Linked DNA regions of Homo sapiens: region 2 is linked to region 1. The links come from fine-mapping of genetic effects on gene expression. Tissue or cell type: whole blood. Region 1 holds a variant in brackets; the other region holds the start of a gene. All regions are shown on one strand. Distances are from middle to middle.

Region 1 (10,485 bases):
GCAAATCCAGAAAACATAATTTAAATAGCATTGGCTAAAGTGGCTACTGGGTAGACAACCTAAACAAAGCTTCATATGACATATATTAATGCATAATTTGTGAACTCCCTTTTCTCTACAGCCCTGAAGGAATGCTACCCTTAGAAGCGCTTCTCCTCTTGTGACCATGTTCTGGTACGCACCCCTTGAGTGGTATGAGAAGGAGGGATATCATAGACGTCCTTTTGGTATCTGGATGGGTACTCGTATACGTAGCCATGGCCTGTCCTCACGGGGGTTATCACCTGTGGGAGAGAAGGCACAGAGGTGTAAATTTCCAAGCCTGAGTCCTTGAATCTCCTTGCCTCCTAACTAAGCACTCATCCCTCAACTCTCCCTCATAAAAAGATAGAAAGAAACCAAAGAAAGAAGACATAACAGGAAGGAGACAAGTAGACACCACGTTAGTAAACTTTTTTTTTTTTTTTTGAAATGGAGTTTTGCTCTTGCTCCCCAGGCTGGAGTACAGTGGCACAATCTCAGCTTACAGCAACCTCTGCCTCCCGGGTTCAAGTGATTTTCCTGCCTCAGCCTCCTGAGTAGTTGAGATTACAGGTGCACGCCACCATGCCCAGCTAATTTTTTGTATTTTTAGTAGAGACAGGGTTTCATCATGTTGGCTGGTCTCAAACTCCTGACCTCAGGTGATCCACCCACCTCAGCCCCCAAAAGTGCAGGGATTACAGGTGTGAGCCACTGCATCTGGCCCAGGTTAGTAAACTTTTAAATCCCTCTTGAATCCCAATGAGAAAAAAAATCCCTAAAATATCTCTATCACCCTTAATTGTGATCATCTCAAAGTTCATCAGATAGAGTTGATGCACTGCAAGCATATTTCTGAAATATACTTTAAGGGATACTTGTGTGTAACTTATGAAAGTCCTAGAGGAGCATTTTGCATCTAAAGTACCGCATACTGAAATTTGCTTTAAGGCTCTGAAACAATTTGTAAAATGAATAATGCAAATAGAGTTTAGCCACTTAAAATTCCTCTCATGCCTTCCTCAGTATGCCTCTTCATTGGACATTATTATGATGATTATAACTGTAATTCCACAGGTCACCAGAGTACTTTTACAAAGCCAATGCTCAAACTGTGCTGTCCTTAGAAACCTCTGGGAGCTTTCATTCTAACGTATCAAACAAACAAAATACTGAGTCAGGGAGGCACCAGGAACAGAATTCAGGTCTCCTGACCTCTGGTCTCTAATCATTTTCCCATTTCCACCAGGAAAGAAAACATCCCCAACAGTACCTACGTCAAGGGATATCAGAAGTCAAATAGCGTTCATCACGATGCTGGCATCTGGAACCAGTGCCAATAAAATGAATCTTACCTAGCAGCCTCCTGTTTTCATATCTACATACTTCATTGGTGTGCTAAGCACCAGCAAAAAATTATTTGAACTTAACTCATTTTGAAATATATGTAATCGTCCAAGGGCTTCTAAATGCCCAGGGTCTTGTTTCTGCCTAACCCCCACCCTTTGAGTCATTGAGTGCCCATCTCAAGCGTTGCCCACGACATCTTTGAGGAGAACAGACATTGCAAATGAGGAAGAGTTGGTTGTTCCCTAAGAAACCGTCAACTTTTATCCTTTCTCTGAAGTGAAAACTCTGGCGTCAGGCTGCCTACAGAACTATGTGAAAAATGCTCCACGTCCATCTTATGCTGAAATGGGTGGAACTCAGCCAAATGCACCAATGCCTTCTCCCCAGGCGCTCTCAAAATGCCTGAGTTCAATTTGGCTTTTAATCCCTAGTGCTTACAACTGATTGTTTCTTGCAACGAAGTAAAAGAGATTAGTATGCACTCAAAATTTCCATCAAGTCTCTCCACTGTCTTGGGTTTAAAAAAGGAACCTATTGCTTTGAGGTCTGTTGGCATGGAGCATACGGAACCACTTTATAGAATGGCCACTGTATTGTGCATAGCAAACCTTCCTTTTCAAAGCAGGATGCCCTTTGCTAAAGAAAAACACAATGTGTTCCTAATGCCCTTATATGATTGTTTTTTTTTTTTTACTCGCTATTGTCCAGGAGAGAAATGAAGATCTCCCCTTAGTCTATTTCATCAGCCCCTCTACTTAGAGCGCTGTCTTGGCTTTATCATAGCACCTGCTCATAGTGCAGCTTTTGTTCAGCTTAAAAGTTTCCAAGAGTGGATTTTATCCAAGGTTGCCAACTTAGCAATAATGCTAATGGAAAACCAAGGCTAAGTCCAGCTTAACTGTTCATCTTTCGTTTAAAAAACAGAAGCGGGCATGTCGGGCGCAGTGGCTCATGCCTGTAATCCCAGCACTTTGGGAGGCCAAGGCGGGAGAATCACCTAAGGTCAGGAGTTGGAGACCAGCCTGGCCAACATGGTGAAACTCCGTCTTTACTAAAAATATAAAATTAGCCGGGTGTGGTGACATGTGCCTGTAATCCCAGCTACTCGGGAGGCTGAGGCAGGAGAATCACTTGAATTCGAGAGGCGGAGGTTGCAGTGGGCTGAGATCTTGCCACTGCACTCCAGCCTAGGCAAAAAGAGTGAAACTCCGTCTCAAAAAACAAACAAACAATCAAACAAACAGGCTGGGCGTGGTGGCTCACGCTTGTAATCCCAGCGCTTTGGGAGGGCAAGGATCGCGGATCACGAGGTCAGGAGATCGAGACCATCCTGGCTAACACAGTGAAACCCCATCTCTACTAAAAATACACAAAATTAGCCAGGTGTGGTGGTGGGCGCCTGTAGTCCCAGCTACTTGGGAGGCTGAGGCAGGAGAATGGCGTGAACCTGGGAGGAGGAGCTTGCAGTGAGCCAAGATCGTTCCACTGCACTCCAGCCTGGGTGACAGAGAGAGACTCTGTCTCAAAACAAAACAAAACAAACAAACAAACAAAAAACCCAGAAGGGGATTGGGAGCTAGAGTGGGTGGCGTTGGTGTCTGAAAATAGCACTAGGTGACATATAAACACATAGCACGACCTCAGAAAAGGAAGGCAGGTTCACCGCTAAAGTGTTTCCTTGCCTTTGTGGATCTTCCCTGGCAGAAAGCGCTAATGCTTCCCGGTATTTAACATTTCACTTCCTGACAAATGTCACAGAACCCCAACTTGCTCTCTCTTTCTCATTTAGAGGATGCCTGTGGTCTTCTGGTTTTTTAAAACTCTGCATTCCAAACCAGTCATTTTCCTTGTTTATGCATTCAAAGAAACAGATGGTGAAAACCACAGGGGGGAAACGCCAACCGAATACAGCACCCCCCGCCCGCCACCACCGATTCCAGCCTTCCTGACATTACCATCTAATTCACGTTGGTCCACAAATGGCATTTAAATGGGACCAGGATGCAAAATGCTGGTCCCATTTAAATGCCAAGTCCAGTGCAGCAATCCGCATTGTGACGTGTGGAAGATCAGGGAGCTCGAAGTCTTCTACTTTTGGACATTCTCTGCCTCGACCTGTTGCTTGGGTCACTTTCATGCCAATTGTGTGTCCTCTCCTCGGAGGAAAAGTGCTGACTGAGCTGTACCTTACAAAGTCTCCAGTTTTGTGGTTCATTAAGGCTTTTTCTTGCTGCGTGACATAAGTACACAAAAACCTTCCAACGATCTCTCCTCATTCCACCTCCCAGAACTGCTGAATTTCAGCTGAAGACGCACACCAAGGTCTGGTTAAGGGGACCTCAAGTTTGGAAGAATTCTCCTAGGCATTTGTTCGGTGAGGCATTAAAGGAATTGCTACACAAAGGACATTTTTAAACTAATTTTCTCAATGAAATCAAGTCAGGTTTTTCATTTCCTTTCCCCCTCTGTTTGCTTTTTTTTTTTTCTACATTCCTTTCATTCTGTGCATTTATTTATAGTTACAAAGGCTTAGCCTTTGGAATTACCAAACTGACCTCTTAATTCATTAGTGTTGCCAGGAAGGGGGCTGAATTGTGAGGTCTCCTGGGGCTCTATGATCCAATGCTACTGCAACTGCTTTCGTGATTACCCGGCACAGGATTTGCACTTTCCATATGTGGATTTTCTGTCCCTAGGAGGAATCCAACCTTTCTCAGATGTTAGTATACCATTCTCAGTAACTAACGGGAGGGTCCAAGACAGAGACTTTGAGAAGAGCTATGAAGCCGAGAAGGGCAGATTCTTCCATTTAGAAAAGGAAGAATCCATTTAATACATCTCCAAGTCTGGGTCCTGGCAGGATAGGATCAAAAGCCCAAAGACTGGCGTTATGTTAGTTCTCTAATTAATCTGCTTACATAAAAACAAGGAAACAAACTCGAATTGCCCCACCCCACACTTTGATGGTGTTTGATCCACACTGTTTTGAGTCTCAGATCCTGGCGGCATGAGTTTCTGGAGATGCTTTTGACACTTTCATGCCTCATAATTTTGAAAGCCATGTATGCTGAAATTTTAAAGAGGAGGGTCTGTGTTTGGATAGCAGAGAGAGATAGGGAGGTCTGAGAACCAGCATGATGACAGTCAGCAAGTTGGATGAGAGGCCCTTGGGACTCTTTCTGATGTTTCTGCATCTGTGTTCCCTGAGCTGGTACCCATAGCAGAGCAAGGGTCCTATACTCAGATGCTCACGGACCGAGCAAGCAGGGTGTAGGGAAGAAACAAGCCAGGCTTTGGTGCCGGGGAGACAGAACTCCTTCTACCGAAAGAGGGAAGACATTGCGCCCTGTGTTGCCAGATCTTTCACGTTTTCAGAAGCCAGAAATTTGGAATTTTATGTGAAACCTGGTTTTCAAAATTGACTTAAATTTTAAAAACAGTGTCTTGGCCAAACTAAACGCGTCTTTGGCCTCCGGGCTGCCAGT[C/T]TTTGCCTTCATCTGTGTATTTTTGCCCTCCTTCCTCTTGGAAATCTTCTGAAGGCAGGGCCCCCAGGCTCTGCACCAACTCCCTCCCTCGGCGAGAACTGAGCTGTCCATTTCCACAGATGCCCTGCACGCCCATACCTCTGTGCCTTCATCCATGCCATGTCCTTGTCTGAGATGCTCTTCTTTCTTTCCTCATATTCAAACTTTAATTGATTTTCAAGGCCCGGCTGAATGCCTTTCCCCCACCAAGCCCTTCCCAAACAGATAATATGTCTCTATCCTTGGAACTCCCTGAGCCAGTGATCCACACATCTCTGACAGCACTTATCACTTGTGGTTTGACGGTCTTGATGCATCTCATCTCTTCTTCCAGCATTTTAAAGTCAGAGATCATTCCCTCTTCATTTAAATATAAACCACAGGGCCTAGTACAGTGCCTAGCAGAGTAGGTCTTGCATAATCTATTGAGTGATACATTAATCAACTAAAGGAAAACTGAAGGCTATTAAGCAAGATGGCGTGAGGTCTGCCACTACAGAATAAGCTTGGTTTCCAGGTAAGCCAGCTCTGGGTTAAGTAGAACCCATGGGATATGGGGCAGAACAGTGCCCTATCAGCCATGCATGGTAGTGTTGGGCAAGAGAGGGATCCAAGAAGGCAAGGGAATGTTAGGTGAAGTTGAGAAATCAGAAACTGTAGAAGAATGCACCCCAAGTTGGGTGAAGCCACTATTGGCAGGCAAGGAGGGCTGCTGGATGGTTTCCTTTTCCCCAGTTGAGCTCGTATGTGACATGAACACCTGGGTTCTTCTTAACCACAAGCCAGAAACATGTGGGGGAGTGTTTTGGAAAAGGGAAACCAAAACAAACCCTGCTTTTTACCTCAACATCAGAAGGAACATACGATTGCTTTAGTTCTGGGGATGTGTGATAGGCTCGTTTATGAGAAGCTGTGTGCCAGAGGCCATGGCCCCACTGGGTCTTTTTCTGTTGCTTATTGGAAGAATTAGGTCTGAAGAGGGAAGTAATTGACAAACAGAAGCTGGACTCAGGCAGAGCTGGATCTAAATCCCGGTTCTACCACTCACAAGCTATGAGAACAAAGGTTCCATTCTAAGCCTGTTTTCTCATAGGTAAAATGGAAATTATACTTCCCTCATAGGCTATATGAGTATTAAATGAGATCAAGTGCATAAAGTACCTGGCATAAAGCCATAATAAGCCTTAGCTATTGTTATTGTTATTGTAATTGTCACCTAGGCTATATAGATTTTACCTTTTGACTTTGACTTCCAGAAATCATGGACTAGGTAATTGAGATTAACCATCTTGCTGAAGACAACTTAAAAAAATGAAGAAAAGCTAGGAAAGATCTTTTTTTTTTTTTTTTTTTTTTTTTTTTTTTTTTTTTTTTTGAGACAGAGTCTTACTCTGTCGCCCAGGCTGGAGTGCAGTGGTGAGATCTCGGCTCACCGCAAGCTCCGCCTCCTGAGTTCACGCCATTCTCCTGCCTCAGCCTTCCGAGTAGCTGGGACTACAGGCACCCGCCCACTGCGCCCGCCACCGTGCCCAGCTAATTTTTTGTATTTTTAGTAGAGACGGGGTTTTACCGTGTTAGCCAGGACGATCTCGATCTCCTGACCTCGTGATCCGCCCGCCTCGGCCTCCGAAAGTGCTGGGATTACAGGCGTGAGCCACTGCGCCCAGCCGAAAAGATCTTCTTAATAGTGTCAAGAGTTCAAGGATAATAAAGAATTACTAGGTCAAACTTTGGGAGAAGAGTTAATAGAGGTGAGATTGCTTTTCAAGCCTGGGGGCATTTGCTATTTTTTGCTGATCTGAAACTGGTGCCTGGGAGGCTGTGCTGGGTTTTCTACAGCTTCTTTGGGTAAGGGGGAACATTGGACTATAGGGCTCACCAAGGCAGGGACCCCAAACCACCCCCGACTTTGGGTTGGAACCCTAAGGACTGTATCCAAAATAAGGATTAACTGGAAGTAAACCCACCCTTGCACAGGCTGAAGACATCAGGGTTGCCAGAACAGCTCAAAGCATGGAATCAGATGTATGCTTGCCTATGAGGCTGGCAGAAGGAAACAAAATTCTCTCTGGAGGCAGAGAACATCTTTATAGGCTTCACATTATTTCTACAAATGTACTGAAAATACAATGTCCCACATACAATCAAAGATAAACAGGAATTCAGGGGACAAGACAACAGGAACAAGACAAGCAACAGTCAATTCTTGCTTTCTAATGTGATAAGAATGTTATGTATGTCTTAGTAATCACAGATCTCAAGGCTGTTTCCTTTCAAAATGTTTTAGGATCAAATCATGGGAGAAATGAAGATTTAATCATTCCTAAATTTAAGTCAGATAGAAAGAAATCAATCTTTAGGAATGTATAGTGCTCAAAATGAGATCTACGAGGCAGTGAGAATTTCAAACCAAAGCAGCAAATGGTAAGAGACAGTGGTCCTTGATGATCATCTGTAGAGTTCTTGGGGTTACTGTTTTCTGCTGTTCGTATCAGTATTGGCATTATTACGGTTATCACCAGAGCAGCTCAAGACACGCCAATGGGAAACCCCAGGAGAAAATGTGTTTTTCCAAGTCTAGGAGATGAAGATATTTATCCAAGAGAAAGACGGCAAGCCTCCAAACTCAGGACACTTTATTAAAATGCTCATCAGATGAGATCTTTTCAGTGGAGGTTCACAAGCTGGTTTGTTTAGAGGCTCTCACTAAGAAATAGGACACTTGCCCATCTCTCTGGAACACCTAGAGACAAAGCATTTTCTGTCAAGACAAGTTCTGCTCACATTGTGTCACTTGTTCAAGGTCTCAGCAAGTCTCCTTGGGGGCACTTCTTTCCTTGGGCATCCACTTCACCTCCTTAATGCAGAGCTGGCTAGGTGCCTGGGATGGGGCAGAGCAGCGGCAGCAGAGGCCATGTGGTCAGAACTTCAACTTCTCAGCTGCATGCTGCTAGCTCAATGGAGCACTAAGGGAAGCGGGAAGGGAGCAGACGGCTGCCACTCACAAAGGCCAATCCCCCTCCCCACAGCAAGCCTCATATCCATCATGTTTTGCTATGTTTCCTTCTGATGCCAGCCCTGTGGGTCACCCACCCACCTACTTATCATGACTTCTCATCTCTCCCCTCACAACACTGTCTTGTTTTGACTACTTCCCTCCTTCCATGTGCTTCCAGCAACCCTAAGTAAGAACAAAGCAGTAAAAAAACGAAGCAGAAAAATCCTACTCTTTGAAAGGAAGAGTTGGGTAGAGTGGATGGGAGACAGAGAGATGGGATGGAGAGGAGACTGGGTAACTTCACTAGTTAGTCATGCTCTAGTGACTTATTATTATTTATACTTCTACATTATCTATCTATCTATGTCTATCTTTGTATGCATCAAAATTTTAAAAATTACAAATATATATATATTTTGTCATTTTAACAAGATTTTAAAAGATAATAAGAAATATTACTTGAAAGGTTTTCTTTTAAGAGAATGATGGGACACAGACCTGTTCTAGATTCTATGTCCCGTGATTCCTCTGAGTCTAAGTCTCTACAATCCAAAGCAACATTACAAATAGCCTGAATTGTGCAATCCTTTGCCTCCAATATAGAGATAGTGACTTGATTATTGACCAGTGGAGTTTACCCATGAATTTAGTAGAGTACTAATGTGTGGAGTCAGCTTCTTGTGTCCTTCCCTAATGCCTAGTCAGGAGCTAGGTAACCCAGGATGTGCTCAGGAAATAACAATGGGTAATTGATGAGAAGTTAAAAAGTGTCCCCGTGCTGTAATGATTACAGATTTATAACCTCACCATTCATAGTACCTACGATTCTCTGAATTTAAAAGTAGGTTTTACTAAGTAACAGCCATGTATTTGCACTTTTCTTGGCATATGTGGGAAGTAAAATTTGACTGCTTCCTGTCTATCTCTAATTCCTCCCCAGCCCCTGATTTATTTATATTATCTCTCTTTGCGTTTCATGAATTAACAAGAGTGTTTAGCTTTCCAAAACTGCCTGTTGGAAAGGGCTTCTTTCACTTAAATGCCCTTGAAAAGCATTAACAGAGCTACCACAGTATTTATTAGACTTTATAATAACCTCTTTGTCTTAAATGAACTATTTGATCCCTTCCCTTTAAAGAAAACCTTAGGAAAAGAAACATTACCATTATCACTGCCTGCCCATTAGAACTGGGATCCAATTTTCAGAAACTGTAAAGCTACAGAGGTTTGCCTGCTTAAAATCCAAGAGTACTAGTTGCTTCTCTATGACCAGAAGAAAAGCCACATGTTGCCTACCCTGGATTTATTAATTCTCTGTAAATTCATTCTGCCCAGCTTGGGTGTAGCAGTGAGCTCATTTATTTACTTGCATAGCAACAATATAATGAAAACTGAGTCTGGCCTTAAAAATACACCCTCGTAAGCCATGTCCAAGGTTAACTCTTCCAAATGCTTCTCTGGTGCTCATGAAGTTTTTTCCCCATGTATTTTTGAAGGTGAATTACTTTCTTTCAAAGTCGTTCTGATGCCTGATTTTATGCCAGAACTAAACCTTTTGCTAGCCACATCTAAATCACAGCCAGCTTCTTTCCCCAGTGAGGAAAAAGTCACAAGTGGAAGCTCAGAAGTGGAGCAGTGGTGCTCCTGGGTCACTTTCATTTGACACAGCGTTGGGCAGCAAACCCGCTCAATGGAAACAGTGCCCCTATTGTTAAGCCCCTAGCATGTCCCCCCTGCTGCTTTCAGGAAGCTCTTTGTGTAGCCAGTGCTAAAGCAATATTTAGTTATAGAGTGACCAAGCACCAGCGAGCAGCTAGAAGCATTTAACATGAAAGAACACGACGGGAAATGACGTCTGGGTTTCACGAGTGGTTGAGGTCTTTCTCAGAACAATGCCAAATACAAGCCTGTGACAAGTTGGATACAGCAAAGCCATTTTTTTTCTGTCTCATGGACTGAAATGTTCTTTGAAAGAAAACTATAAAAAAGCACAAGTATTGTGGCTCTTTTGATGTCCAAATAAATTCAACAGGACTCTGAGCGCTACATCTAGATTGGGAAATGGATTTTAGAGAGATGCCCACAGACTGCCCTAAGGGGAAAGGGACTGTGAAGAGGAGGTGAGAGATGAGAATTTTGGGACCCAAATGCCGATTGGTATCATTTCTTCCTAAAGAGGAGAACGCTCAGGTTTAGTTGGAAGAAGGGATGCAGTGGCTGATGGGGCAAACCACTCACAAGGCAGAACTCGGTGCCAGCTCTGAAGGTGGTTGTCGTGTCCAGAGACAACAGGCCTAAAACGTCTGCAAAATCCAAGAGGATTACATAGGGGAAAATGGGCAGAAAACAATGAGTTCCAGGATGAAGTGCTTTCTTAGCTCTTGGTAACAAAACAGGGATGAGAGTGCTCCTTAATGGGGAACTCTGGAAGTTTTTTTGGGTACAGGACCCAGGTCTGTCAAACACTGATTCTCACTGGCTCAGCACACTCCAGTCCCTGCCTCCTTGTGTCCCTGCCTGCTCCTGCTGTCTTTTGGCATAGCTCTGTCTTCCAAAGGGCACTGTGGTTCTGGATGGGATGGTGGGCTGGAT
Region 2 (5,000 bases), 35 kb after region 1:
CAAGGTAATAAAAATCATGTATTTACATCATTTGGCAAGGTGTTCAACACCAGTAAGGCCCAGTGGAGAAGCAGGTTTCTCCATGAATGCCAATCGCAGTTTACGCTGTCAGTCACTTTATCAGTTGCCTTTAGATTTTCTTTCCATAAAGAGTAAAGCTAACCACGATGAGATCATTGAATAAAAGTGACTTGAGACTTTGTCGCTTTCGTCACTTTCTAGATTATAGCACTCAATGTTAATTTCAGCCATTTATACTTTCCAATAATAGACATATGAACATACTTTCTCTTTTTTCTGCAAGCCAGTTCTTATTCAACAACAGGGAAAGGAGGAGCAAAAAAGTCACTCCAGGCTGAGTAATATCTGGTCCTATCATTGTTCTAAATAAGGAAATATGGGGTGAGCCACTTTAAGGAAGATAACTTTCCTGCCAAGTAGAGGGATTTGTTTCTGGTTGCATCCTAAAGTCAAATATTAATAGTCTTCAGGATGACCCTTTCCTCTGATCTTCCCTACTGATGAAGATAATAGAAAGCTGATGAAACAGAAATAGCTGATACCTGTGTCTTCAGACAGTGGTAACGTAGGCATTACTATAAAGACTTTTGACATTTAGACTTAAAGCTTTTGAATAAGATTCATAGTTTTTGAACAAAAGCTTTATTACTGAGGCTAGTCAGTGGCTATCAGTTAGACCAAGTATTTACAACCTTACATCAAAAAAGGATGGACCAGAAAAATTTAGAAAAAAAGCGAAGTAGCTTCCAGCTAGTGTACAGTTAATATAAATTGTCAATCCACAAGCCTAGCACCCTTGCCCAAATCCATCTTAATAATAACACTTTTGTTTAAAATAGCATAAAATAAAATAGTAGCACTAGCACTCATGTCTATTCATCATTCAAGAAAAATTCATGTCCAATTCATTGCAGTCTGCTTTCTTTGTGTCCCCTGGAAGCTGCTTGCCTCCTTAGATGGGAGTGACTTAAAAGAAAAAGGGGAGGGGGGAATATACGGAGCAAGTCAAAAATCCTTTTGGCAAGAAAAATCCACAAACAATGGTGTAAAATGCATTGGAAAATAATGCTGCTGAAGTACTATGACTATGACACTCTGTAAGCTTTCAGGCACAATGAGCCAGCCTGAGCCTTCGCACTCTCACCCCATTCAAACTCCAATAAAAATGTTTTCAAGAAATGGCTCATACTTATTTATTCCTACATCCAATATAACATAAGGATGTCAAAATTTTCCATCCTCAGCTGTGTAATCTGGGCTTTTAATTTCTCCCACCAAAAGTGCATATGGCATACTCCTTCCGAGACCAAACGATTAAAGCAAAGTCTGGAAAACTTTGCACTAAGAGCCAGTCTGAGACAGACTATGCAGTCCTCATTCCTCTCATTACAGTTCCCCAGGGCAGTGGAAGCCAGGCCTGGGGAAGCCAAGGAGACTTGAGCCAATGCCTGCCGCGATTCAAGTCAGACACCCTCTGATCTCCAGTGGCTGCTGTGAAGCGGCTCCAAGTCTTAACTTCTCACCGAGGTATTTCCCCGGCAACTTTCAGAGCAGATGGACTCGGGTGTACTGTGAACCCCTGGAGTGGGTCTCAAAGACCGGGTCTCTGCTTGCTTGTCTGCTTGCATGTCAACCTCAGTGACCGAGACTCATCTTAGAACTCTCCGGGACACACAAGGGACTGACAGTAAGGAACACGCATACACAAGCACACACCCGCAGGCACAGCTTTCAGCTTGCAAGGTAACCTGTAAAAGGCACTCTCTTACCTTATACTTCATTTCGGCAGCGGTGGGTTGAGCCGTTTTCCTACACTAGTTAAGACAGCATTAAGCACTGCGGTGCCCGCCCCTCCATTGAGTGCAGCGCTAGATGAAAGCGAGAAGGTCCCGGGCAGAGCCGCTTGTCAGTCGCAGCGCCTCCCTCAAGTCTCTGAGCTCACTGTTGTGACTGAGGCAGGCTGATCGCGGACCTCATTTGCATGCCGCCCCGCCATTGGCTAGTGGGACAAGGTAATGCTCAGGCCCTGCCCACCCCTAATTCTGAAAAACTGACAAAGAACTTGTAATGTGATCGCTTCTTTTTGCTTTATCAGACGGTGGAAAATAAAACAGAAAGTGGGGAACCGTCCTGAACCTTACTCTGTCCTCCCGCCCCCGCCAAAAAAGAAGACAGAAAGAGAAAGAACAGGAAAAGGAGATACATTCTTTTTAAGATTAACCCAAATTTTAAAGAAACTGAATTCACAAAAGCAGTCTGACAGTCGCGCTTCCTGTGACCTAGCAACTCCTTCATAAACCCATTTCGTTTCAAAGCCATTCACCTCACAATCTCTACATGAAACGAACTCCGGGAACAAAAGGTTTTCTGTCTCCGGGCCCCTTTTTACTAACCACCCCTGCTGATACCTCTCTCTCTCTCTGTCCCTTTTTCTTTCCCCCTCCTCCCGCCTACTTTTTGTGTGTGTGTGACTGTTTGCTTTTTTTGTTCTTTTCAACGTTCAAAGTACTTTGCGATGTCAGTCTGCAAGGAGCTGGAAGACAATTCTCCCTTAGTGAAAAGGAACCCTCTAGCACACGCACCAGCGTTTTCCTGGACAGCTTCTCACCAGGGCCTCAGAGTTGCGGGTCACACATATTGAGCGACCTTCAGTGGCTTTGCTGAGGATAAAGGTTAGATGTGACCTCTCGGATGGGGTTGGCCAGTGCACGCCCTATACATCATCACCGTCCACTGAGTTCTGTGTTCTTTGACGGCTGGCATTTCTAGCTCCAGCTTTGAACACTGCAGTGTTTTTCCTTCTGACCTCTGTCCTGAGGATGACCCATTAACCCACCAACACTTATTATCCAGGAGAACGAAAATGCCCACTGTTTGATGAGCCTGGTTAAAAAGACCAGTCTCTCTCCAGCGAAGCACAGAACATAATTTCTATAAAGGTTCCATTTTAGGATTTCTATAGAGAAAGAGAATCACCCAGAAAACAGAAATGGTCACCTTCTGCAACTCTTCTCACGGACAGAGCAGTGAGGCGAAAAATTCCTTTTTCCCGGGCAAGACTGAGACTCGGTGAATCCAGACAATAGCTGTCCCTGAGTGGGATGCACTCCAACCAGACTACATGACTTGGATGGAAAAATCAGCCCTTATTTTTTTTTTTCCTGACCAAGTTGGATCAGAATCTGATTCCCTTCGCGTCTAACACACAAATTCCCAATGGATGAAAACTCTACTTTTATGATCTAAGCAAAAGGAATGAGAGAACAGCTGTCCTACAAAAGTGGTTTCCAGATACAGGGTTGGCAGGTTAGTTTGCAGTTCAGTGTGGCACTGATTCCAGGGACATGACCCCCCAGGCCATCCTAATGAGGTTGACATACCTGTTCCAGCCTGTATTAGGCCTTGCTTCTCCTCATTTGTCCTTAGAGCAAAAATAAGCCTGAGTGATTGTGCAAGGCCTTTCTGAACACAAATTAAGCACGCAGCATATTGCATTGTAACGATCTCCTTAAGAATCCTGCAGACTGACCGGAGAGTCGTTAGTTTGCAGGAAATTGTTTTTGGTGTCTACCTGGATAAAGGAGGACAATGATTCAAAGCCCTTCCCATCTGTAAGATGAGTCTTGCGGCCTCCAAGAGATCTAGATAACATTCCTTTGGCTTCCTAAGTGGTCAAGCTGAATCCTTTTTCTGTTTTGTTTGATGAATATCATTGAGTAAGTGAGTGCTGTCCCATCCTATTTTAATGTTTTCAAACAGTTTCCTAAAGTTTGTGCTGGGGTTTTTTTGTAATTTCATTCTCTAGCTAGTGGCCCTCCTGCTTTCCTGTTTCTGTCCTGTAAGGTAAGTAAGACACATGTAATCTACCCGAAGTTCATTTCAAGAAGGCTTGGGTCAGTATATAGTTAGCTGCCTAAAGGAAAGCACAAGGGTGTTGGAATCAGGTAAACCTGTGCTGGAACCTCAAAACATTTTTAATTTTTTTTTTTTTTTTTTTTGAGACAAAGTTTCATTCTTGTTGCCCAGGCTGGAGTGCAGTGGTGCAATATCGGCTCACTGCAATCCCCGCATCTCTGGTTCAAGCAATTCCCTCAGCCTCCCGAGTAGCTGGGATTACATGTGTCTGCCACCATACCTGGCTAATTTTTTGTATTTTTAGTAGAGACGGGGTTTCACCAGATTGGCCAGGCTGGTCTCGAACTCCTGACCTCAGGTGATCTACCTGCTTCAGTCTCCCAAAGTGCTGGGATTACAGGCGTGGGCCACTGTGCCTGGCCAGTTGAACTTCTTAATTTTGATGTCCTTCAGTATGAAATAGAGAAAATAATAATACCTGCTAGCCTCATAATGAGGATTAAATAAGATAATGTGGATAGAATTTAATAGTACTTGTTACATTGTAAGACCTTAAATGGTTGCTTGTTCTTATTACTGTTGTTATTAGTTATTATTTTAATTAATATCAGATTTATGATATTTTGTTAATATTTTATGACATTATTGCTATATTCTATAGATTATTATTTAATTATTGTATTAATTATAACTAGTATTAATATTAGACTACTGTTGATAAGTGTGGTAGGCATTCAGAAGAAGTTGGAGGAACCCCTTCTCTGTGTGCCATTCTTTCATAAGGCAGCTTTCTCACTGAACTGTTATCACTAGAGCACCTAGCATGTGCCAGGTACCTTTCTAGGAGGGGAGGATACAGCAGTAGCCCAGACAAAGTTCCCATCTTCATGGAGCTTACAGTCTAGTGAGAGTTGAGGAAAATAATTAAATGAATGTATAATATGATTTGCAGTGATAAATGCTATGAAGAAAAATTAAGCAGGGAAAATTGCTGGAGGAAAACAGACCAGGGTGGGACAGGAGGTGTATTATTTTAGATAAAGTGGTCAGGGAAGCTCCTCTGAGGAGATGATATTTAAGCAGAAATCTGAATAGTTTCAGGGATCCAGCCACTCAGAGATCTA

What was found. PIP is the estimated chance that this variant, and not a neighbour inherited with it, causes the effect.
Region 2: NEDD9 starts here. The variant in region 1 is fine-mapped to the expression of NEDD9 in whole blood (TOPMed, PIP above 0.99).

What each region holds. Positions count from the first base shown.
Region 1 is chr6:11,193,409-11,203,893 of GRCh38, forward strand. NEDD9 (neural precursor cell expressed, developmentally down-regulated 9) reads right to left here. Exons shown (of 7, transcript NM_006403.4): 3 at 183-284. Among named protein-coding and RNA genes, the nearest start is that of NEDD9, 34 kb to the right of the region's middle. RefSeq lists enhancers at 1,750-2,616, 2,617-3,482, 5,822-5,871. The variant C/T (reference allele first, on the strand shown) is at 4,857.
Region 2 is chr6:11,230,714-11,235,713 of GRCh38, forward strand. It overlaps NEDD9 (neural precursor cell expressed, developmentally down-regulated 9), which reads right to left and starts at 1,955. Exons shown (of 7, transcript NM_006403.4): 1 at 1,791-1,955. The coding sequence starts at 1,802. RefSeq lists silencers at 1,463-1,512, 1,993-2,042.